7 linked regions of the Homo sapiens genome follow. The protein of the gene in region 6 purifies or fractionates together with the protein of the main gene of each other region. This does not show direct contact. Each region holds a gene or a part of one and is shown on either strand. Other genes may lie near its edges. The genes, in order: CEP97, YEATS2, TBC1D31, CCDC61, BBS4, CEP162 and SKIC3.

Evidence for each region.
Region 1: the proteins of CEP162 (region 6) and CEP97 purify together in Homo sapiens (affinity purification with western blotting; one large-scale study listed by BioGRID and IntAct). This does not show direct contact.
Region 2: the proteins of CEP162 (region 6) and YEATS2 purify together in Homo sapiens (affinity purification with mass spectrometry; one large-scale study listed by BioGRID and IntAct). This does not show direct contact.
Region 3: the proteins of CEP162 (region 6) and TBC1D31 purify together in Homo sapiens (affinity purification with mass spectrometry; one large-scale study listed by BioGRID and IntAct). This does not show direct contact.
Region 4: the proteins of CEP162 (region 6) and CCDC61 purify together in Homo sapiens (affinity purification with mass spectrometry; one large-scale study listed by BioGRID and IntAct). This does not show direct contact.
Region 5: the proteins of CEP162 (region 6) and BBS4 purify together in Homo sapiens (affinity purification with mass spectrometry; one large-scale study listed by BioGRID and IntAct). This does not show direct contact.
Region 7: the proteins of CEP162 (region 6) and SKIC3 purify together in Homo sapiens (affinity purification with mass spectrometry; one large-scale study listed by BioGRID and IntAct). This does not show direct contact.

What each region holds. Positions count from the first base shown.
Region 1 is NC_000003.12:101,748,614-101,752,113, forward strand, and holds part of CEP97 (centrosomal protein of 97 kDa), read left to right. Parts: intron 1-3,500. UniProt on the Homo sapiens protein: Acts as a key negative regulator of ciliogenesis in collaboration with CCP110 by capping the mother centriole thereby preventing cilia formation. Required for recruitment of CCP110 to the centrosome.
Region 2 is NC_000003.12:183,805,797-183,809,296, forward strand, and holds part of YEATS2 (YEATS domain-containing protein 2), read left to right. Parts: intron 1-1,069; coding exon 1,070-1,296; exon of another isoform or gene 1,297-2,233; coding exon 2,234-2,308; exon of another isoform or gene 2,309-2,316; intron 2,317-2,933; exon of another isoform or gene 2,934-3,056; intron 3,057-3,300; coding exon 3,301-3,374; intron 3,375-3,500. UniProt on the Homo sapiens protein: Chromatin reader component of the ATAC complex, a complex with histone acetyltransferase activity on histones H3 and H4. YEATS2 specifically recognizes and binds histone H3 crotonylated at 'Lys-27' (H3K27cr).
Region 3 is NC_000008.11:123,145,707-123,149,179, forward strand, and holds part of TBC1D31 (TBC1 domain family member 31), read left to right. Parts: intron 1-3,473. UniProt on the Homo sapiens protein: Molecular adapter which is involved in cilium biogenesis. Part of a functional complex including OFD1 a centriolar protein involved in cilium assembly.
Region 4 is NC_000019.10:46,008,967-46,012,466, forward strand, and holds part of CCDC61 (centrosomal protein CCDC61), read left to right. Parts: intron 1-3,500. UniProt on the Homo sapiens protein: Microtubule-binding centrosomal protein required for centriole cohesion, independently of the centrosome-associated protein/CEP250 and rootletin/CROCC linker.
Region 5 is NC_000015.10:72,734,707-72,738,206, forward strand, and holds part of BBS4 (BBSome complex member BBS4), read left to right. Parts: intron 1-406; coding exon 407-476; intron 477-1,118; coding exon 1,119-1,260; intron 1,261-2,055; coding exon 2,056-2,257; intron 2,258-2,771; coding exon 2,772-2,881; 3' UTR 2,882-3,500.
Region 6 is NC_000006.12:84,217,644-84,221,143, reverse strand, and holds part of CEP162 (centrosomal protein of 162 kDa), read left to right. Parts: coding exon 1-87; intron 88-1,930; exon of another isoform or gene 1,931-2,041; intron 2,042-3,283; exon of another isoform or gene 3,284-3,345; intron 3,346-3,500. UniProt on the Homo sapiens protein: Required to promote assembly of the transition zone in primary cilia. Acts by specifically recognizing and binding the axonemal microtubule.
Region 7 is NC_000005.10:95,520,478-95,523,977, reverse strand, and holds part of SKIC3 (superkiller complex protein 3), read left to right. Parts: intron 1-143; coding exon 144-323; intron 324-651; coding exon 652-776; intron 777-1,670; coding exon 1,671-1,924; intron 1,925-3,159; coding exon 3,160-3,262; intron 3,263-3,500. UniProt on the Homo sapiens protein: Component of the SKI complex, a multiprotein complex that assists the RNA-degrading exosome during the mRNA decay and quality-control pathways.

The sequences.
Region 1 (3,500 bases), on a different chromosome or scaffold from region 6:
TAGTCCACAGGGATGTTTCCATGGAAGAATACTTCTTTTTCTTTTGAGATGGAGTCTCACTCTGTTGCCCAGGCTGGAGTGCAGTGGCGCAATCTCGGCTTACTGCAAGCTCCGCCTCCTGGGTTCATACCATTCTCCTGCCTCAGTCTCCCGAGTAGCTGGGACTACAGGTGCATGCCACCACGCCTGGCTAATTTTTTGTATTTTTAGTAGAGACGGGGTTTCACCGTGTTAGCCAGGATGGTCTCAATCTCCTGACCTCATGATCCGCCCACCTCGGCCTCCCAAAGTGCTGGGATTACAGGTGTGAGCCACTGCGCCCGGCCCATGGAAGGAATACTTCTAATTATCTTTATTAAATAAACTAAACTTTTTTGGTTAAATTTTATTGTTATTATACTTTAAGTTTTAGGGTACATGTGCACAACGTGCAGGTTAGTTACATATGTATACGTGTGCCATGCTGGTGTGCGGCACCCATTAACTCGTCATTTAGCATTAGGTATATCTCCTAATGCTATCCCTCCCCCCTCCCCCCACCCCACAACAGTCCCCAGAGTGTGATGGTCCCCTTCCTGTGTCCATGTGTTCTCATTGTTCAATTCCCACCTATGAGTGAGAACATGCGGTGTTTGGATTTTTGTCCTTGTGATAGTTTACTGAGAATGATAATTTCCAATTTCATCCATGTCCCTACAAAGGACATGAACTCATCATTTTTTATGGCTGCATAGTATTCCATGGTGTATATGTGCCACATTTTCTTAATCCAGTCTATCATTGTTGGACATTTGGGTTGGTTCCAAGTCTTTGCTATTGTGAATAGTGCTGCAATAAACATACGTGTGCATGTGTCTTTATAGCAGCATGATTTATAGTCCTTTGGGTATATACCCAGTAATGGGTTGGCTGGGTCAAATGGTATTTCTAGTTCTAGATTCCTGAGGAATCGCCACACTGACTTCCACAATGGTTGAACTAGTTTACAGTCCCACCAACAGTGTAAAAGTGTTCCTATTTCTCCACATCCTCTCCAGCACCTGTTGTTTCCTGACTTTTTAATGATTGCCATTCTAACTGGTGTGAGGTGGTATCTCATTGTGGTTTTGATTTGCATTTCTCTGATGGCCAGTGATGGTGAGCATTTTTTCATGTGTTTTTTGGCTGCATAAATGTCTTCTTTTGAGAAGTGTCTGTTCATGTCCTTTGCCCACTTTTTGATGGGGTTGTTTGTTTTTTTCTTGTAAATTTGTTTGAGTTCATTGTAGATTCTGGATATTAGCCCTTTGTCAGATGAGTAGGTTGTGAAAATTTTCTCCCATTTTGTAGGTTGCCTGTTCACTGTGATGGTAGTTTCTTTTGCTGTGCAGAAGCTCTTTAGTTTAATGAGATCCCATTTGTCAATTTTGTCTTCTGTTGCCATTGCTTTTGGTGTTTAGACATGAAGTCCTTGCCCATGCCTATGTCCTGAATGGTAATGCCTAGGTTTTCTTCTAGGGTTTTTATGGTTTTAGGTCTAACGTTTAAGTCTTTAATCCATCTTGAATTGATTTTTGTATAAGGTGTAAGGAAGGGATCCAGTTTCAGCTTTCTACATATGGCTAGCCAGTTTTCCCAGCACCATTTATTAAATAGGGAATCCTTTCCCCATTGCTTGTTTTTCTCAGGTTTGTCAAAGATCAGATAGTTGTAGATATGCGGCGTTATTTCTGAGGGCTCTGTTCTGTTCCATTGATCTATATCTCTGTTTTGGTACCAGTACCATGCTGTTTTGGTTACTGTAGCCTTGTAGTATAGTTTGAAGTCAGGTAGTGTGATGCCTCCAGCTTTGTTCCCTCTTTTTCTATTGATTGGAATAGTTTCAGAAGGAATGGTACCAGTTCCTCCTTGTACCTCTGGTAGAATTTGGCTGTGAATCCATCTGGTCCTGGACTCTTTTTGGTTGGTAAGGTATTGATTATTGCCACAATTTCAGAGCCTGTTATTGGTCTGTTCAGAGATTCAACTTCTTCCTGGTTTAGCCTTGGGAGGGTGTATGTGTCGAGGAATTTATCCATTTCTTCTTGATTTTCTAGTTTATTTGCGTAGAGGTGTTTGTAGTATTCTCTGATGGTAGTTTGTATTTCTGTAGGATCGGTGGTGATATCCCCTTTGTCATTTTTTATTGTGTCTATTTGATTCTTCTCTCTTTTCTTCTTTATTAGTCTTGGTAGTGGTCTATCAATTTTGTTGATCCTTTCAAAAAACCAGCTCCTGGATTCATTAATTGTTTGAAGGGTTTTTTGTGTCTCTATTTCCTTCAGTTCTGCTCTGATGTTAGTTATTTCTTGCCTTCTGCTAGCTTTTGAATGTGTTTGCTCTTGCTTTTCTAGTTCTTTTAATTGTGATGTTAGGGTGTCAATTTTGGATCTTTCCTGCTTTCTCTTGTGGGCATTTAGTGCTATAAATTTCCCTCTACACACTGCTTTGAATGTGTGCCAGAGATTCTGGTATGTTGTGTCTTTGTTCTTGTTGGTTTCAAAGAACATCTTTATTTCTGCCTTCATTTCGTTATGTACCCAGTAGTCAATCTGGAGCAGGTTGTTCAGTTACCATGTAGTTGAGCGGTTTTGAGTGAGTTTCTTAATCCTGAGTTCTAGTTTGATTGCACTGTGGTCTGAGAGACAGTTTGTTATAATTTCTGTTCTTTTACATTTGCTGAGGAGAGCTTTACTTCTAACTGTGTGGTCAATTTTGGAATAGGTGTGGTGTGGTGCTGAAAAAAATGTATATTCTTTTGATTTGGGGTGGAGAGTTCTGTAGATATCTATTAGGTCCGCTTGGTGCAGAGCTGAGTTCAATTCCTGGGTATGCTTGTTAACTTTCTGTCTAGTTGATCTGTCTAATGTTGACAGTGGGGTGTTAAAGTCTCCCATTATTATTGTGTGGGAGTCTAAGTCTCTTTGTAGGTCACTAAAGACTTGCTTTATGAATCTGGGTGCTCCTGTATTTGGTGCATATATATTTAGGATAGTTAGCTCTTCTTGTTGAATTGATCCCTTTACCATTATGTAATGACCTTCTTTGTCTCTTTTGATCTTTGTTGGTTAAAGTCTGTTTTATCGGAGACTAGGATTGCAACCCCTGCCTTTTTTTGTTTTCCATTTGCTTGGTAGATCTTCCTCCATCCTTTTATTTTGAGCCTATGTGTGTCTCTGCACGTGAGATGGGTTTCCTGAATACAGCACACTGATGGGTCTTGACTTTTTATCCAATTTGCCAGTCTGTGTCTTTTAATTGGAGCATTTAGTCCATTTACATTTAAAGTTAATATTGTTATGTGTGAATTTGATCCTGTCATTATGATGTTAGCTGTTTATTTTGCTTCCTAGCCTTGATGGTCTTTACAATTTGGCATGATTTTGCAGTGGCTGGTATCGCTTGTTCCTTTCCATGTTTAGTGCTTCCTTCAGGACCTCTTTTAGGGCAGGCCTGGTGGTGACAAAATCTCTCAGCATTTG
Region 2 (3,500 bases), on a different chromosome or scaffold from region 6:
AGGGGGGGCAAGTCCCAGTTTTGCCATTAAGCTTCTTGAGAGCCTAATGCAGGATGGCCTCTCCTTTCTCTCATCTCCTGCAGCGCTTAATATCAACAGCATGAGGGCTTGTCTGACTTCGCTGTGTAAGCTACTCGGAGAGCAGAGACCGTGTTAATGATCCCCGGGCTTCACTGACATTGTGTGGAAAGCACAGTACTTGCACATACTAGGCTTCCTTTTAATCTGACTGATTCCAAACGGCCCCTAACCTACAATGGTTTGACCTGTGATTTGATGTTGTGACTTTACAATGGTCTGAAAGCTGTAGGCATCAGCACATACCTTGACTTACGATGGCCTTGTCCAGATAAGGCCATCGTAAGTTGAAAATATCCTAAGTCAAAAATGATATTTTCAACTTACGATGGGTTTTTCAGGATATAGCCCCAGCCATCATAACTTGAGGAGCAGCTGGAGCTTGTTAGAGCCCAGTCAGTAAAACAAAAGGCCAGGAGCTGGGTGCCCTTAAATCTTGTACCTGGTGTGGACCTCACACACTCATCCAGAAAGTGGAAGGGCACTAGTGCCCTAGATCTGGCCTTGAGGTCCTCACACTCCTGATTAGGTTTTGTATAAATCACCTTATTAGAGACTGGACCCATAATATACATTGAAATGTTAACAGTCCTGCTCTCTGAGCAGTGAGAATAGGGGTGATTCTTTTTATTTTCTTCACTCTGCATTTCTAAATTTTCCAGATTTGAGATGAGGAAAAATCAGGTCAGTCCTTAATACTCAGAGGGAGGGGGATGACCTGGTTTTTGGTGGCAGAAGTGAGAATTCCTACTCTTTCATCTTAGATGGCAGTTACCTTACATAGATCACACACAAGATGCCTGTGTTTATGCCTTTCTCCCTCGTGAATTACTAGTTCTCATCATTATAGATCCATAGAATGTTAGAACTGGAAAGAAGGTCAGCTCCCCTGATGCTTATCCCCCTTCCTCAGACCATGGGTCTCTTGGAGACGGAAAGTCCTCTTCCGTTGGCCCCACAGCTGTTGTAACACTGCTTGCCTGTCATTTAGAGTGCCCATCATCATTCTCCTCTGCTGACAACCTCTGCCGCAAACTGGAGGACCTGCAACAGTTCCAGAAAAGGGAACCCGAGAATGAGGAGGAGGTGGACATCCTCAGCCTCTCCGAGCCAGTGAAGATAAACATCAAGAAGGAGCAGGAAGAGAAACAAGAGGAAGTCAAGTTCTACCTGCCACCAACCCCAGGGTCTGAATTTATTGGGGATGTCACACAGAAGGTAGGGGTTGTGGTGTTAATAGTTCATGCAGCAGACCAGCTCAGAGCTAGATGTTCAGACGTTCAGCTTCACAGACCCAGACCCAGGTGTTCAGCCTCACAGACACAGACTCAGACCCAGACTCTTCTGGTGCCGTAGATGCTTGACTTCCTTCTGCCTGGTTGACCCAGGTGTGCTCTCAGGGCTCCCACCGTCCCACATCAGAGCCCTTGGGCAGAAATGCTAATTACATGTGAAAACATTGCTTGTTGAACGCAGACGTGAAGCAAAGCTGGCTAGATAGAAATGGTTGATTACTCTTCATCTTGTTTTTCTCATCTGCCTCAGTAGAAGCACCTTTCCCTCATGAGGCACGTCGTACTCTTTCTGAGTTGCACGTCAGCGCGTAATCCTCCCCTGATGTGTTGATAGCTCCTGAGTGCCCCGCCTGTGGTGCAGATGGCGTGCACCTGCCTTACTATACAGGAGAGAGGTATTTATCCACCCTGCTGGAGCCTAACAGCTCTTCAGCATCTGCCAGTTGCTCAGGGCCCAAGGTGAAAGACAGTGTGCTTTCATTGGATGCCATGAAGAATGGGCAAGATGCAGTTTCCAAGTGCAAACAGGACGTTGGAGTCTGATTCCAGACCTTTCAAAGTGTTGATTGCGTATCAGAACCCAGGCAGATCCCAACCATGTTCTCCCACGAAGGAGATTTGAGAGATTTTAATAGGATTATAGTCATATTTTAAATATCAGCCAGAAATGTGGAAAAACAAGATAACATTCTTCTAGATGTTATATTCCGTGTTCCTTTCCCGTGAATTTTGCCCAATATGTTTGCAGAGTCCTCCTTCCAACCAGGCATCGCTTTGCATGTCAGGGAGGTATGCTTGTTTGGAGAGAGGCTGTTTCTAAAGCAGCGATACGAACAAACGGCTTTCTTCTGCTTTTCCAGATTGGGATCACCCTGCAGCCCGTGGCACTCCACAGGAACGTGTATGCGTCCGTGGTGGAGGACATGATCCTGAAGGTGGGTGCCTGCAGGGGCCGCCAGCCAGGAAGGATGGTTGCATCCCAGGCGGTTTGGAGTAAGGGGCAAGGACAGAAAAGGAACAAAGATAACAGGCTTTAAAATGTCTCGTCTTATTTGGGCTTAAGTTCTCTCTTTTTGTTTTTTTGTTTTTTTTCCTTCTGATTTTTAAATGGACTAAGTTATGTTTCCTCTGAGTCATGTGGTTTCAGGTGCCTCCTAAGACGTATTCTGGGGGTGGTGGTCAGTGTGCTCGTTGCTTTAGGAGGTGGCAGAGACAAAGCCTATGGTTTTCTGTACACGTCACAACAGCAAACAGCCCCAACTGTCCTGACCCTGGCAAGGGGACGAAAATGCCGCAGCCTCCTTCCCCAGCCTGATCCTAGCTCAGCAGTTCCTTTCCTCGTGGATCCTCTCCAAGAATAGGGATACCTCCGTAACAACTGCTTTCCTTAAATACAATGTCTAGGGCTGGGCGCGGTGGCTCATGCCTGTAATCTCAGCACTTTGGGAGGCCGAGGCGGGTGGATCATTTGCAATCAGGAGTTGGAGACCAGCCTGGCCAACATGGTGAAACCCCATCTCTACTAAAAATAAAAAATTAGCTGGGCTTGGTGGCGCTCACCTGGTAATCCCAGCTACTTGGGAGGCTGAGGCAGGAGAATCGCTTGAACCCGGGAGGCGGAGGTTGCACTGAGCCAAGATCGCGCCACTGCGCTCCAGCCTGGGCGCGAGAGTGAGACTCCATCTCAAAATAAATAAATAAATAGAATAATGTCTGATTAATGAAAATCACTCCAATTCATAATTTCTCAGAATCATGGCCTTTATCATTATGGTCTATTATTGAGGCCTTTAATTTTTTCTTAAGGACTTTTTAATCCCTAGTTGCAGTGGTTTCAAACATTTGGGGTAAGGGATGGGGTTAAATGTGTCCCTTCTTGCCAGCAAGCAGATGGCCATTTGAAGAATAACAGCATCTTCCATTGTAGGCTACAGAACAGCTGGTGAATGATATCCTGAGACAGGCTTTGGCAGTTGGATACCAGACAGCTTCTCACAACAGGTATTACTATCTCTGCAGTCTGTGGTGTGAGGCTTACACCTCTTTCCTAACAGTTGAATTGCCCATGAAGGTGTTTTATACTTACATCAATCCAGTAGGAGATGGAGTGAGTGCTTAGGACACTCT
Region 3 (3,473 bases), on a different chromosome or scaffold from region 6:
AGATTTCCAAAAATTATAGAGTACAGTTAACAAGGAGCTTTTATTTTACTGTGTTTTATTTTGTTTCAGTCTTTTATAATGTGTATACATTGCTTTTTAAAATAATAGCTTTGTTGATACATAATTCACATGCCCTATAATTCACCTTTTTTCTTTCTCTTTTTCTTTTTTTTTTTTTTTTGAGACAGAGTTTCGCTCTTGTCTCCCAGGCTGGAGTGCAGTGGTGCGATCTCAGCTCACTGCAACCTCCACCACCCAGGTTCAAGTGATTCTCCTGCCTTAGCCTCCTGAGTAGCTGGGATTACAGGCCTACACCACCATGCCTGGCTAATTGTTTTATTTTAGTAGAGATGGGTTTTCGCCATGTTGGCCATGCTGGTCTCGAACTCCTCACCTCAGGTGATCCACCCGCCTCGGCCTCCCAAAGTGCTGGGATTACAGGCGTGCCCAGCACCGCACGCAGCCTAATTCACCTATTTAAAGTGTATTATTCAATGTCATTATATTATCATGTACTAAAAAATACACTTACATAGTCATGCAGCCATCACCACAAGCAAGTTTAGAGCATTTTTCAGCACTTCAAAATAAACCCAGTACCCATTAGCAGTCACTCCCCATTTCCACTCACTCCCCCAAGCCCCTGGCAGCTACTAACTACCTTGTGTCCACTCACCTATTCAGGAAGTTTCATGTAAATATAATCATGTAATATATGGTCTTCTGTGTCTGGTTTCTTGTACTTGGCATAATGTCTTGAGATTCAACCATGTTGTAGCATGTACCAGTACTTCATTCCTTTTTATTGCTGAATAATATTCCATTGTGTGGATATTATGTATTTTTTTAATCTATTCATCAGTCGATGGACATCTGGATTCTTTCCAATTTTTGGCTTCATGAATATGCTATGTGCATTACTTTTACATTTCACAAATTTGAAGAGTGAAAATATAGGTTAGGTCATTTAATTATGCCTACCTTTTTTTTTTTTTAAAGACAGAACTTCACTCTGTTGCCCAGGTTGGAGTGCAGTGGCACGATCTTGGCTTACTGCAACCTCTGCCTCCTGCATTCAAGAAATTCTCCTGCCTCAGCTTCCTGAGTCGCTGGGACTACAGGCGCATGCCACCATGCCCAGCTAATCTTTAGTAGAGATGGGGTTTCGCCATGTTGCCCAGGCTTGTCTCGAACTCCTGGCCTCGAGTGATCTGGCCACTTTGACCTCCCAAAGTGCTGGGATTATACCTCACCCGGCCAAATCATGCCGACTCTTAAAACCACTCATTACCGCTCATACTTGAGATTTAGTGGTCCCAAATAGCACCAAGAGTACTTCAGGGAGGTGGAGAGGAGTAGAATGTGACTCTGCACGAATTAAATATTTAAAACTGGCTTACAAAAGATACTAATCATGGGAGCTGTCACTTCTCCCTCACCCTCTCACACTTACCCTTGTTTTTTTTTTTGGTTGTTTGCTTTTTTGAGACGGAGTCTCGCTTTGTCGCCAGGCTGGAGTGCAGTGGCACAATCTCGGCTCACTGCAACCTCCACCTCCTGGGTTCAAGCAATTCTCCTGCCTCAGCCTCCCAAGTAGCTGGGACAACAGGCGCCCACCACCACGCCCAGCTAATTTTTGTATTTTTAGTAGAGACGGGGTTTCACCATGTTGGGCAGGGTGGTCTCAATCTCTTGACCCTTGTGATCCTCCTGCGTGGCCCTCCCAAAGTGCTGGGATTACAGGCGTGATCCACCGCACCCAGCCTTACCCTTGTTTTAGAAAGAAAAATAGAAAATCTTTAGAGAGCTATCTACGTAGAAATAGAGAAAGGTAAGAAACTGTGAAAAGCTTTCGTCATCGGTAGTTTTCCTACACCTTTGCCCCTCTGCCTCCATGATGTCTTCCCTTCGTGCTAAATTTTTTTTGGCAGACCAGTCAGCCATGTATGTTTTTTAACCTTGCTGAATTTCACCAATAGAGATAATTTGATTAATAAACATCCAGTTTTCAAAAGTCTTAAGTTTATGACTGAATGATGTGTCAGTCATGTTCTTAATCAGGGTATATAGATTTAATCAGATTCATTTAATCCTAAAAGCAGGAGATAATCACCTACCATTAAGAAAATGACATTTTTGAGCCCGGCGCGGTGGCTCACTCCTGTAATCCCAGCACTTTGGGAGGCCAAGGTGGGCAGATCACAAGGTCAGGAGTTTGAGACCAGCCTGGCCAATATGGTGAAACCCCCGTCTCTACTAAAAATACAAAAATTAGCCAGGCGTGGTGGTACACACCTGTAATCGCAGCTACTCAGGAGGCTGAGGCAGGAGAATCGCTTGAACCCAGGAGGCAGAGGTTGCAGTAAGCCAAGATCGCACCACTGCACTCCAGCCTGGGCGACAGAGCGAGACTCCATCTCAAAAAAAAAAAAAAATACAAACCTATATGTGTTCAAAAAATACACATGTTCAAGACCTCACCAATAGTGATTTAATTCAGTAGATCTAATAATAGTAATAATTCCGTCAGTAGCTCTAGGGTAGAAACTAGGGAGCTAGATTTTTGTTTTAAAGTTTCACGAGTGAATATCCCCAGCCAGTGTTTGAAACATTGCTGGAGACAAAAGGTAATCATTAGTTGTTTGAACAGAGATAATATTTACAACACAGCCCTTTGGGAAGATGAATTGAACAGGAGTGGGCAGGTTGAATTTTGGAGGACAGATGAGAGGGAGCTGTGAGATCTCAGCTCTGGCTGGGCACGGTGGCGCCTGTAATCCTAGCAATTTGGGAGACTGAGGCGGGAGGATGGCTTGAGCCCAGGAGTTCAAGACCAGCCTGGGCAACATAGTGAGACTGCCTCTAAAAAATAAAGAAACAAAAAGATCTGAGGAACCACACCTGATTCGCGTCTTGTCTGTGCAGCAAATGTAGCAGTGGCCAGCGTGCTTGTGCCAGAATGCTGGTAGACTGGGAAGCTCGTGACCTTATTCCATTTGCTACAAGTATTTTATTTTGGAGTTATTTCTGGCCAGGCGCAGTGGTTTACGCCTCTAATCCCAGCACTTTGGGAGGCCAAATCATGCCTACTTTTAAAACCCCTCATACACCTGAGGTCAGGAGTTCGACCTGGCCGACATGGCCAACATGACCAACCTGGCCAACATGGTGAAACCTCGTCTCTACTAAAAATAGCCGGGCATGGTGGCGTGAACCTGTAATCCCAGCTACTCCAGAGACTGAGGCAGGAGAATCGCTTGAACCCAGGAGGTGGAGGTTGCAGTAAGCCGAGATCACGCCACTGCACTCCAGCCTGGGGTGACAGAGCAAGATTCCGTCTAAAAAAAAAAAAGTGTTATTTCTTAGTAAAATAGTTCAATCTGCTTTTTCTTTTCTGTTTTTCTTTTTCCGCTGAGTTCTGTCCGCAGAAACCGTTCTCTGGAACAGTGCAGATTGCAGATTACGTTTACTAC
Region 4 (3,500 bases), on a different chromosome or scaffold from region 6:
TTTGTGCTAGCCCCTCCCTGCCACTCACGTAGTGCCCAGCCCTGGGGGAGATGGGTGCTAAGTATATAACCACTTGAGTATATCATTACAGATGGAGATGAGTAGGGCAGGAAAGGGAGCCTGTGCTGTGGGAGGCTGTCACAGGACTCCACTGGGGTGTAGGGTGGGTCAGGCCCAGGGGCTGGGGAAGTGTTGTAGGCAGAGGGAACAGCCTGGGCAAAGTCCTTGTGTTAGGTGGGAATGCGGTGAGAACAAGGGAATGAATGAAGTGAAAGAAGCAAAGGCCTTTGGCATATATATTCATGCCTGCCTTGTGCTTGGTTCTGTTGGGGAGACGAATCTGGGGCTTGATCGCTACCGGGAAGAGGCCTGGCTCGTTGGGGAGGACTAATAATATTTTTAGTAATAATGTTACCAGTAACTAATGTTTATTGAACATTTAACTGTATGCCAGGGCTGCTCTGTGCTTTATGATTAAATTCATTTTATCCTCACAGCCACCCTACAAGGTAGGCACTGCTATTATCACCGTTTGACAGAGGCCCAGAGAAGTTAGGGAACTTGGCGCAGGTCACACAGTGGGTAATATGGCTAGGCTGGACCTTAGATCCAGGCAGCCAGCGCCGAGCCTCTGTTGTTTCCCCAGCTGTTTGCACTGTTGGTGGCTGCAAGCCCAGGACAGAGCGCTAAGTGCTGACCCGGAGGACCAGTCCTTATGGGAGCTCATGGGGCTGGGGAACCCCGCCGGTCTTTGGAGGAGCTCGCCTGTGTACGGCTGGGCCGAGGAAGGCCGCAGTGGGGAGGCCAAAATTTATCCTCAGGATCTGCTCTCAGGCTGTGTGTGTGTGTATGTGTGTGTGTGTGTGTGTGTGCGCGCGCGTTTGCTCTGTCTCAGGCTGTGTGTGTGTGTTTCTAGGTTTGTGTTTCTGGGTGTGTGTTTCCCAAGATGGCCACAAGGGGGCGCCCTCCACCCTTTGGAACCAACCACAGGAGCCTTGAGATCCCACCGCTGCTCAGTGGCTTCTTATCTTCCTCTTCCCAGCCAGGAATTAGGGAGTTTGGGAAGGTTCTGAGATTTATTCATTCATTGAGCCAACATTTATGGAGTTCATACTGTGCCAGGCACACTGCCTGACGCTAGTTAATGTTTATTATGCTAGACATGGTCTAAGCACTGTGGATAGATTCTTACAGCCTAACAGGCGGGCATTCTTATTATCGTCCCTCTTCACAGATGAGAAAAGATGGCCTGAGGCTCAGAGATGTGAAGTGAAACTGCCCAGGGCCACCCAGCTTGTTAACAAGTGGAATAGAGTTGAATGCAGGGCGCCCGGCCACGCAGCCTGGGGTCCTGTGCAGTGAACCAGACAGGTGGAGGCTCTGCCCCCAGAAAGGTGGGATCCACATGGGAAACGGACACTCCTCTACATGCCAGGTCTGCCAGGGCTGGTGCTAGGAAGGAAAGGTATAGAGGGCTGGGAGAGCGGAGAACGTCAGGGGCAGGTAGGCTTCCCGGATGAGTGGAGTCGTTCTTGCCAGGAGAAGAGGGAGAGAAGGTTCTGGGAGGTGAGAACTGCATCTGGCTGGAGCCTGTGGGAGAGGGAGGCAGGAGGAGAGGAGGGGAGAAGTCAGATGGGCAGGGGCTGAATAGAAAGGAAAGCTCCTTGTTAGAGAGTGTGGGGAACCACGGATTTTAAGAAGGATTTATTAGGAAAAATTCCAGCACCACAAAAGTAAACAGTAGTATAATTTGCACGTACTTGTCCCCCAGCTTCAACAGTTACCCACGTTTGCCCATCTTGTTTGATGTACTGCCACCCCCTGCCCTGTAGCAAATCCCAGTCTTCGTGTCTCCTCTGTAAAAGCATCAGTGTGTATCTTTAACACATAAGGATATAAGTGCTGCCATCACATCCAACAAAATTCACAAAAATTCCAGGATGTCATCTGAAACCCACTGCGTATGCGTTCACACTTACACTTCTCTGATCACCTCTCAAATGTCTTTTTTGCAAGTGGTTTGAATTCGTCCTGTATCTAAATACGGCTGCACATTGCAGTTTGTCGAGGTCTTTCTTTTCTTTTCTTTCTTTCTTTTTTTTTTTTTCAGTCTTGCTCTGTTGCCCAGGCTGGAGTGTGGTGGTACGATCTTGGCTCGCTGTGTCCTTACCTCCTGGGCTCAAGCGATTCTCCCACCTCAGCTTCCTGAGTAGCTGGGACTACAGGCACATGCCATCATGCCCAGCTAATTTTCATATTTTTTTATAGAGACAGGGTTTGCCTGTGTTGCCCAGGCTGATCTTGAACTTCTGAATTCAAGCCATCCACCTGCCTTGGCCCCCCAAAGTGCTGAGATTACAGGCACGAGCCACTGAGCTTGGCTGATGTATTTCTTAAATCTCTTTTAATTTATATCCCCCTCTCCACTTTTCATGCTACTTATTTGTGGAAGAAATCAGGTTATTTGTCCTGTAGAGTTTTGCAGTCTAGATTTTGCTGAATTTTTCCCTAGCAAGCATACTCAGATGGAAAAATGAAAAATAGATTTTGCTGATTATATCGCCATGGTGTGTTTAATGTCCTTCTCTGTCCCCTGTACTTGCAGTGAAGTGGTGGCTAACCCTATATAGGTTTAATCACATGTGGGGTAGGTTTTGGCAAGATGCCTCCTTTGGTGGTGTTGAGACTGATGATTTCAGCTGTTGAGAGCTGGCTCCCTCTTTTATAAAGTTCTCTTCGGCCTTTCAACCAATGCAGTGGTTCACTCTGGATATGCACTCAAATTGCCCGGGAGCTTTGAAAAATCTCAGTGCCCTGGCTGCCCTGTACATTCACCATTTCTTTTTCTTTTTTTGAGACCGAGTCTCGCACTGTCACCCAGGCTGGAGTGCAATGGCGTGATCTCTGCTCACTGCAACCTCTGCCTCCTGGGTTCAAGCGATTCTCCTGCCTCAGCCTCCTGAGCAGCTGGGATTACAGGTGTGTGCCACCACACCCGGCTGATTTTTGCATTTTTAGTAGAGACGGGGTTTCACCGTGTTGGCCAGGCTGATCTCGAACTCTCGACCTGTCTCAAGTGATCCACCTGTCTCAGACTCCCAGAGTGTTGGAATTACAGGTGTAAGCCACCGTGCCTGGCCTATTTTTCTTTTTTTAAAAATTTTGTGAGCAGTGAGGAGTTCCAGGGCAGGCCCTGACTCCTCCAGACACACCACTTACACCTGAATCTCTGGGATGGGACCCGTCCCTCCTGCCCAAGAGTCCCACTGCTTCCACTACTTAACTTTCTTGTTGTGAAAAATAATATACTCCAAAGAGTATAAAATATAAATGTACGGTTTCACAAATTATCATAAAGCCAGCGTACATGTAACAACTACCCAGGTTAAAAAATTGAGGCTGGGCTCAGTGGCTCACGCCTATAATCCCAGCACTTTGGGAGGCCGAGGCGGGTGGAACACCTGAGGTCAGGAGTTCAAGACCAGCCTGGCCAACATGAT
Region 5 (3,500 bases), on a different chromosome or scaffold from region 6:
GAAAGTGTAAAGATCATGGTTATAGATGTGGGGGGCCAGTGAGGATTCCTAAGTAGGATGGTAATGTGGTCAGATTTGTAAGGCAGTGAGATACCTGGCAGCGCTGTGGAAGGTGGAATGGAGGCAGGTGGGGACTTTGACACTGGGGAATAAATGGAAAGCCTAAAACTACTTGGGCCTGAACAAGGGCAGTGTCAGAAAAGAAACTGCAAAAAAAGGATGCATAGAACCTGGCAACTGATTGACTGTAGAAGAGATGGTTGAAGATAGCACCAGGTATCTAAGCTGACTTAGTAAACTCTGGTGCCATGAGCTGACAGGGTGAAGTTTACTTTGGGGGTAGTCTTTAATACTCCTTTTGTCTTCTAAGCTGAGCTCTCCAGCTGCAGTGCTTTCTTTGTTGCAGTGGCTCTGACCAATCTGGAAGATATAGAAAATGCCAAGAGAGCCTACGCAGAAGCAGTCCACCTGGATAAGTATGCACTTTGTTGAGAATGGTACTGGCGGGGGTTGGACTCTCCAAAGCCATGAGGTGGTGCCATACATAGCATTGGTGCTGCCTGTGTCAGCCCAGCTGTTCCTCTATGGCATTAGTACATAGCAGACCTCAGTGTGGAGGGATGTGTCTCCTAAGTATGTGGTGGCTCAGCAGGAATTGACACTCTGAGAAAATGTTTCCAGTCCTAAACTGAGTAATCAGGAGGCTAGAGAATGTCAGAACTGGCAGTGGGCTTGGGTTGCTGATAGCTATGGGCTAGCTGGAATATCAGATGGGACTCTGGGCTGTTTAATTCAAGATAAAACTTGACTCTTCCAGGATTTACTCCGCTGGCATCTTCTAGACAGCAGGGTAGAGATCCCTTTTTCAACCCTGGCCTAGGTAGTCTCTGTTGAGGGCTGAGATGCCAGATTTGGTCCCAATACCAGCTTTGCTTGTTAGGCCATTAACTCCTTGATTCTTCTCCACAGGTCTGCTTAGCACGTATGTACCTACCTTGCTGCATAATGGAGAAATCTCTACTTAACCAGTTTTGTTTTGTTTTTGTGTAATGAGAAGGATCTCTAAATGACCATTTGTTGCAGAGCCCCCAGCTCCATAGAATCTCTGTCTGCCACAGGTGTAACCCTTTAGTAAACCTGAACTATGCTGTGCTGCTGTACAACCAGGGCGAGAAGAAGAACGCCCTGGCCCAATATCAGGAGATGGAGAAGAAAGTCAGCCTACTCAAGGACAATAGCTCTCTGGAATTTGACTCTGAGGTATGTCTTTTATTAGCTCCCAAGAGTCATAAGTAAGCTCTCAGGAGACTTTTAAAAATCAAGCCCAGATCATCCAAATCCAAGGTATTACACGTTCATGGCTGTTCTGGCTTTGATGTTCCTAGCAGCATGAGTTCATCAATTAATAACAGCCTGAGAAAAACTTTCCTAGAATAATAATAAAAGGAAATTCAGGCTTACTGAGTTGTTATTGCTAATTCAACTCATCAAAGTTGAGGTCTGTGTCTGTCTGTAGCTTCCTTCTATTTCACTTTTTTTTTTTTTTTTTTTTTGAGACGGAATCTCGCTCTGTTGCCCAGGCTGGAGTGCAATGGCGCAATCTCAGTTCACTGCAACCTCCGCCTCCTGGGTTCAAGCAATTCTCCTGCCTCAGCCTTCCAAGTAGCTGGGACTACAGGCGCGTGCCACCACGCCCAGCTAATTTTTGTATTTTTAGTAGAGACGGGGTTTCACCATGTTGGCCAGGATGGTCTTGATCTCTTGACCTCGTGATCCACGTGCCCAGCCCTATTTCACTTGTTGTAGGAAATGCACTGTTTGGCCCGGTAATGCACCAGGCTTGAATTGTTGGGTTTTGAGATCCTATGTGAACCACCATGCCATCCAGTAAAGGCAATCTGTAATCTCTACTGTTTGATAAGTACTTCCTGCCTCAACTGCTAGTACGACCAGACACTATTTCAGCTAAAACCCCAGCTCGAAGACCAAAGAAGTGGGTTGGCTTGTCTCTGACAGTCACGCTTTTGATTCTTTTACTTCCTTTGTGGACACAAGATGGTGGAGATGGCTCAGAAGTTGGGAGCTGCTCTCCAGGTTGGGGAGGCACTGGTCTGGACCAAACCAGTTAAAGATCCCAAATCAAAGCACCAGACCACTTCAACCAGCAAACCTGCCAGTTTCCAGCAGCCTCTGGGCTCTAATCAAGCTCTAGGACAGGCAATGTCTTCAGCAGCTGCATACAGGACGCTCCCCTCAGGTAGGACCATACAGAGCTCCATGAAGACCTGGCAGGTACAAGCCACATGTGTCTGTCAGCAGAGATTATAGCTTTCAGTGAGGTTCTCTTCAGACTCATATGTCCAACGTAGTATTGGCCACAAGGGGAGAAAAAAAACACAGGGTGGCTAAATTGGCACTTGTTTCCTTAAGGCGAGCTATGTAGTAGGTAACAGCTACTCACAGACTTAGTTGGATGGTCTATACACTGGTCTTTCCAATTTTAGCAATATGTTATTAAGTATATCCTGTTATGCAATGTTTAATTTTTACTGCTTTATCAGAAGTTGACACGTAAATATTTTTCAGTGACTCATTGAAGGCAAACTTGACTGTTGCTTTATTTCTCAGTTATAGTCTTCCCTTATAGTTAATGGGTCAGTCCCACTGGTTCCAGAAAATATGGGGTTTCCTCTTGAACTCTAACAGCAAAAAAGAATGATTTCTTCTGAAATTGTGGAACATGAGGATTCAAGTTTTTATTTTGTTACTAGGTGCTGGAGGAACATCCCAGTTCACAAAGCCCCCATCTCTTCCTCTGGAGCCAGAGCCTGCGGTGGAATCAAGTCCAACTGAAACATCAGAACAAATAAGAGAGAAATAAGAATAGAATGAATGACCCCAAAATAGGGTTTTCTTGGGCGAGGATGTGCTGGATTAGGAAAGGTGACATGACACAGGCAGAGCAGAGTGGCACCCACCACAGAATACAGTGTGTGTTATTACGAGGAGCCAGCAGTTGAGCCTAAGGTCCTTCTACCTACCTGGTATTGGCATTTGAGGTCGGAAACCCTCTACTGCCCCATAAGCCAGGAAAAGTGAAAAGAGAACACAGTTCCTTTAAGAACTGGCAGCAAGGCTTGAGGCCTTATGTATGTAGCTGAGTCAGCAAGGTACATGATGCTGTCTGCTTTCAAAAGGACTTTTCTCTCCTAGCTGACTGACTCCTTCCTTAGTTCAAGGAACAGCTGAGACAGACCTCTGCTGAGTAGCTCTGTGATGACAAAGCCTTGGTTTAACTGAGGTGATCCTCAGGTTGTGAGGTTTATTAGTCCCCAAGGCAAACACAAATATTAGATTAATAATCCAACTTTAATAGTATACATTTAAAAGAAAAAAAACAAAAGCCCTGGAAGTTGAGGCCAAGCCTGCTGAGTATTGCAGCTGCATTTGCCCAAAGGGAATCCAGAACAAGTCCCTCCCTGTATTTTGTTCTTGAGAGG
Region 6 (3,500 bases):
ACAAAACAGCTAGACAATCTAAAAAAGAGATGAAGAAGAAAGATACAGTGCCTTGGTGGATAACTGAAGATGATTTTAAAGATGATGGTAAATGTTGCTGATTTTTAGTTTCAAATTATTTGACCACAAGGGGTCAGTCAAGACTTCTGGATTTTGTTACTTCACTATAAATATATACAGAAAATAATACTAATAGTGTGGATTTTTGAAGTTTGAATTGATTTTCATATAACCAGTACTTTATTATGTATTTATTATGTAATTGAGAATCTGCGTTATAACATTATCAGCTTATTTTACATGGAGATAATTTATATTTACTCAAATTAAGGTGACAATTCAGGTATATTTATTATCATGTTTAATGATAAATTGATTTAAGGTGATTTAATAAGATATTCTGGCAGTATATTAATGTCATTGCATTGGGAAGAGTTTAACAAACCTATAGACCTTGGTATCACAGTTTGTTAATGACAGTAGTAAAAAAAAATTTACTGCCATATGTATATATGTCTCTCATATATATGTATATGATATGCCCAGGCTGAAGGGCAGTAACACAATCATAGCTCATTGTAACTTCAAACTCCTGGACTCAAGCAATCTTCCCACCTCGGCTTTCTGAGTAGCTGGGACTACAGGTACATGCCAACATGCCTGGCTAATTTTTTTTATTTCTTGTAGAGATAGGGTCTCTCACTGTGTTGCCAGGCTGATCTCGAACTTGCCTCAAGCAGTCCTCCCACCTTGGCCTCCCAAAACGCAGAGATTACAAGCCTAAGCCACCACTCCTGGCCTGATAGGTTTACTATACATGATACTGCCACATCTGTAAACAACCCCGACTGCTTCTATTTCAGTACCTACATTCACACCATTTGTGGATCAGTGTTAAGCACAATTTTGTAAAATGATAGAATTTCTGTATCTCTAGGGAAAAAATATACATATGGGCTTTTGGTTTCCCCCCCTCCCCATGAAAATTGAGCCTGAATTCATGTCATAATTAAGACTCTGCATGATCTGACTGGAACCCTGCCTTCTCGTGTACTGTAGCCATAGGTAATCATTCCTCATCTCCTGGAAACACCATAGGCCTCCCTGCCTCTGTGCATTATCTCATGCTTCCTTGCCATTAGAATGCCTTTCCTCTCATCCTTCTTGCCCAATAAAGCCTAGCATCACCACTTTTTGCAGTCCTTCACTCTATCTTCTAGCTCTCTTGTCACAATTAGTTTCTCCTTCATTTTGATGTCAGAACACCATAGTAACACTTACACATTGTGTTGATAGTTGTAACCTATAGGACAACTCCTGCGGTTGGGAGCTTTGCGAGGGTAGGAAACACTTCTTTGTCCTTGTATCCCCTGACCCTCAACATTAAATGATAAATTTGTTTAATAAATGCATGTTAAAGTAGATTTGACAGTTACTTCTCTGTTCTTTTTAATACTGTAATTTAAAGAAATTCCTTATTGAAAAATTCAGTGCATTTTTTATAAATTCTTATGCAACATGCTGAACTTTGTAGTGAAGAATTATGTTTTAGACTCTCTCCCTGCTTTTAATGCTTGAAAAGGATATTATAAGATGAAGTACTGTTGGAATTGTTGACAAAGATTTGGGACACAAAGCCTTTTGTCTAGAAGATAATGAATCAGAGCAGATATATACAACCTAATCCTACAGGAAAAGAATAGCTCCTAGACCAAAAATACTCACATGTAACCTGATTGATGGTATTAATAATTTTTTTAAATGTATCAGAAATAGATTTGATTAGTAAAAGAAGTAAAGAAGGATAGTCAAGAAGCAAACTTTGACAATGTCAGCTTAAACAGCGGGAGGTTTCCCTGCCCACGGGAATAACCTGGTCCCTGATTCAAGCAAACGGTTACTGAGTTTGTATTATGTTCTAAATACTAGGCATTATTATGAAAAGGCAAGACGTGATTCCTGTATCAAGAGTGTAGAACCTTCTGAGGGAGAATTCAACACTCCTCTTGAGAAGAGGAATGCATTATTAATCTTAAGACAGGTACCATTAAACATTAACAGTGAGCGGCTTTTACATTATAATTTTGCTTGTTTCCCAGTTGCCATAGGAATAAAATGTTCGGCTTAGAAGGTGAAACTATCTCATCCTCTTGCTGATTGTATTCTTTATTGTAAATAACTAAACTGGATCTTCGTTTCTGTTATATTAATCTCTTGTGAACTTGGTTAGTGTGAGCTACAACCTCAAGTCGTGCTTTAGAGCCAGGGTGAGACCCTGGACATGTTGCCACTACAGCACACCAACCTTGGCATATACTTTTTCATTTGAAGCATCTATGAATCTCTCTCTTGATTTTTTACAACTTATGGAGGTTATTATTTGATCCAGTAAAACCATTATTCACAGAAAGGCATAAAATAAATTGATTCTTAGCCTTTTCCAAGAGGACACAAATTAGGAACTTGAAGTCAAAATTCGTGACTTCTTAATAAGGCTTCCTCCTACCAAAAGTGATATTTTTTCTAATCTTCATATTTATAGCACACATTTTCAGTCTTCTGGTTTTTGAAGAAAACAAAGAACAAAAGAATATTAAAAAGCAAAAAACAAAAATAAAACATTACTCATAATTATTTACCTTTTCCATATATCAGTTTTTTACAACAAACATATACTATTAAAATAAGGAAATTTTGATACTGTATAGCTTTACCAGTTTTTTCTAGTGCTCTTGGAATACAGAGCAAGACCCTCTGCTGGCCTATGAGGACGAGCACGGTCCAACCATTGACTTCCTGCTCTGGGCTTATTTCCTCTTAGGCTTACGCTCACCATCTGGGTCCAGCCTCACTGGCCTTTTTGCATCTGCAAATGTGGCCTGCCCCTCCCATTGTCATGCTTCTGTACCTACTGTGTCCCCTGCCTGTTCTGGTCTCCCTGGCCTAGTTCACCTAATTATTTCCTGGTCTTTCTTCACATCTTAGCAGAAATGTTACTTCCTCATGGAAATATTCTTGGATTTTCCTGTCTTGGTATACCCCCCCAATTAATCTTATATAATTCCTTCAAAGCAGAGTTGTAATTCACATTTAACTTTGCTCTGTGAATACTGCTGCTTCTCTGGTAACCTCCAATGGTTACTGTTTTCTTTGCCACGTCTCTTGTTCCATTAGACTTGGAAAAGGAGTAGGTTATTGTTCATTGCTGTTTCTAGACCGTTCTTCCAATCTCCTTATGAACCTTGCTATCAGACCACCTATCTACTGTGTCTCTTTGTTGCAGTTATCTACTGAACTCCGGGTTATTCCTCCTCATTCCTCAAAGATTTTAGCTGCTGTTTCACTGTGAGTCTCCAATTCTCTTGTCTAATTATTGGTGACTACATTAACTACATAGCTAATGCCTCTAATAACCTGACTTCCGAGTTCCTTAAACTTGTTTACACCAAAAAATCTTGCCTGCCACATCATAGCCACCTCTTCCCTCTAATAGCTTCTCA
Region 7 (3,500 bases), on a different chromosome or scaffold from region 6:
TCAAAGGATTTTTTGGCATATTTTTGTATGTTTAATGAAATTATTTCTTTTTTCTTTAATCTGTGTATTTATCTTCTGTATTTGTAAAGATACTCATTAAATGAACTTTTAATGTTCTGTTATTATCAATATTTATTTCAAAGGCTGCAAGACTGGATACATATATGGGCAAAGTTTTCTGCTATTTAGGTCATTATTATAGAGACGTAGTGGGAGATAAAAACAGAGCTCGTGGATGTTATAGGAAAGCCTTTGAATTAGATGACACTGATGCTGAATCTGGAGCTGCAGCAGTTGACCTAAGTGTGGAGCTTGAAGATATGGTATGTCTAATAATCACTTTTGCTTTTTGTTTTTTTTATCCTGAGTATATAAATGAAAATATTTTTATATATGTATACTTGAAAGTTATCATTAGTTTTTTTTCTATAGGTGCAATATAAATATTTTTGCCTCTGTAAGTGAAGTTTTTTTCCATTGGCAGATATTAAATTACTAACCACTTATTGTTGAAACTGTAATTTGATGTATACCAGTGTAAGTTTAAAAAATCAGAAGTGAGAAATGAAAATATGTTTGTGTACTTTACATGAGCGTTCTGTCTTTTTATAATGTTCAATATATCTAATATTAGTATTTTCTTATTATTAGGAAATGGCTTTAGCTATCCTAACAACAGTAACTCAAAAGGCAAGTGCTGGAACGGCAAAATGGGCCTGGCTTAGGCGAGGACTATACTATTTGAAAGCTGGTCAGCATTCTCAAGCAGTGGCTGAGTAAGGCACCTTATTGTATTTAAACTATGTTAGACAAGCATAACGGTTCCTTAAATTAAGCATTTTAATTGTCTCTTACCAGGTTGTATTTTGAGAGAAGAAATAACAAAATTACTTTATGATTGATTGGTGTTTATTGTTTGCAGGGCAGTGGAATTGCAGAGATGGATTAAATGGTGTCCTGTTGTTGAGGAGATAGCCAGATTAGTGAATTGAAGTCTTAATACATATGTATAGTAGTTCTCAATAGAAATTTTAGTGATGAGAAGCTGAGGTACATATCTTTGTTGTTCTGCTGACACACATTGTTTTTGGCAAGGGAGACATTTGGCAGCTTAAAGGGCATTGGGAGCAGCTCATATATGATCAATTTGAGTCATTTGATTTGAACAGTACTTAAATGTAAATAAATGTATTTGAATCAAAATAAAATTGTTTCTGGTTTATGTTAGTATCTAGAGTACAGGCATTTTCACGGAAATGGAATTTGATCAGATATTTAAAGCATGCCTATTGTTTCCATATTTTAACTGTGGTATTTCTGTTTGGTAAAAGGATTGCTGGTGGGGGATTATGGGCTGATGTGACAAACTGAGATGGACACCTGTCCTGGTAGGATAGAAAACTCGAGTTCTTCAAGATAATCAAGGAAAAGAAATTTTGTTCAGCACTTTTTCAAAAAAAGCATTTTATTCTTATTCTGAAATTAAAATAACATTTCTTAGCATTAAAAAAATCATAAAAGGAACAAATTTATCTGCTTTAAATAGCACTTTTATAAGTAGAAGGAGCCACAGATATATATGTTTACTTGAATTATTTATTTTATATTTTCCTTTCAGATTTGGAGATAGTTCCATACTTTTAGTTCTCTTACGGTTTTTTAAATTTTAGTTTACAGGCAGCATTAAGAGCAGACCCAAAGGACTTCAATTGTTGGGAATCGTTAGGAGAAGCATACTTAAGCAGAGGAGGCTACACAACAGCCTTGAAGTCCTTCACAAAAGCCAGTGAGCTGAACCCAGAATCCATATACAGTGTGTTTAAGGTTGCAGCAATACAGCAAATCCTAGGCAAATATAAGGAGGCTGTAGCTCAATACCAGATGATCATTAAAAAGAAAGAAGATTATGTGCCTGCTTTAAAAGGTAATTTATTTTTAGTAGCTCCTTTGACTTTTATGATCCTGAAGTATAAAATCCTTGAGTAGATTTCCTGCCTAAATGTATTGAATAACTTGAAAAGGACTTCTTTAGTCAACAGCAAGCATCCATATGAACCTCTTACAGTATAGCTTATATAAATTTGAATATAAAAAGATCAAATCTTGTTTCACAAGTTAATAAATAGTAATGTGACAGAGATTTAACTTTTAGACAAACAGTATGATAACTATTAGATCTAAAAATTGATCTCTAAAACATGTTTCCCTACTCTTACATTTTGATAATTAATTCATCATGTCTCCAGAATATCTTAATACCTTTAATTACTTTGTAAGTTATACAAGCTCATTAAATTTTTTTTAAACTTCAGAGACAACTTGCATTGTTTTGTAGTTATCTAAGTTATTTTTGGTAATATAAAATAAAATACCACCATCCATATATAACCTACATTTGTAATGATTGTATTAAAAAAGCTGGGAGCTCATTATATATGCTTACTTTCTTCCATTTCCTTCTTTCTCCTTTTTAAAGAAACTGGTTTTTTTTTTCTGTTTGTTTTTCTTAAGGAATGCTTTATGAATTTTTGTGTCATCCTTGCTCAGTAGCCATGCTAATCTTCTTTTTATCATTCCGGTTTTGGTATATGTGCTGCTGAAGTGAGCACATAAATAGTATATTGTATATGACATATAACTTAGGGCTTGAAACTTTTTTTTTAATTTTGTAAAACTCTTTCCTCAAGAGAAGGAGAACTCACATTTAAGAAATCTTTACTAGGAACTTTAGGTAATCACTATTTCATTTAATTCTTATAGTATAGCTTGCTATACAGATTTTAATATAAAAAGATCATATCTTGTTTCACAATAGTTAATAAGTAGTAATATCATGGAGAGTAACATATAGATAATATCCACATTTTTTGTAGCCAAAGTTTTAGCAGGTAAGTAACTTGCCCAAAGTCAAGGAAATTCTTGGGTTCTGTAGATAACTTTTTTATAACTTCTAGTGCATGTTTACTCCAACAGAATTCTTCCATTTGAATTTCTTATTGAGTGAATGTAGGATCATGCTTTAAGATAATTTTATAACACACCGTTAAGTTTTATTTTCTGGAAAGTGCTTTAAAATAACACCAATAACTTTATTTGAAGTTCATTTTAAGTGTTTATTTTATATGTTTTAATAACAGTGACAAACTTACCTGATTTTAGGTTTGGGTGAATGCCATCTTATGATGGCAAAAGCAGCTCTAGTTGATTATCTTGATGGAAAAGCCGTAGACTACATAGAAAAAGCACTGGAATATTTTACTTGGTTCGTATTATTCTTATTATTTATTGTTTATTTTTGTAATATTAAAATGAAGCCAAATTTAGAAGATCATTTTATGTATTCTGCTAGATATAGCAATTGCTCAGAATGTCAAACATAAAGAATAACAGACAAGCCAATTCTATAACATACATGTTGTATTAATTTTGCACTTGGGGAAACAGATATAATTTCTTCTGCTCTTAGTAGTGGCTGGCATCCTAGATGCATAGGAAAGAAT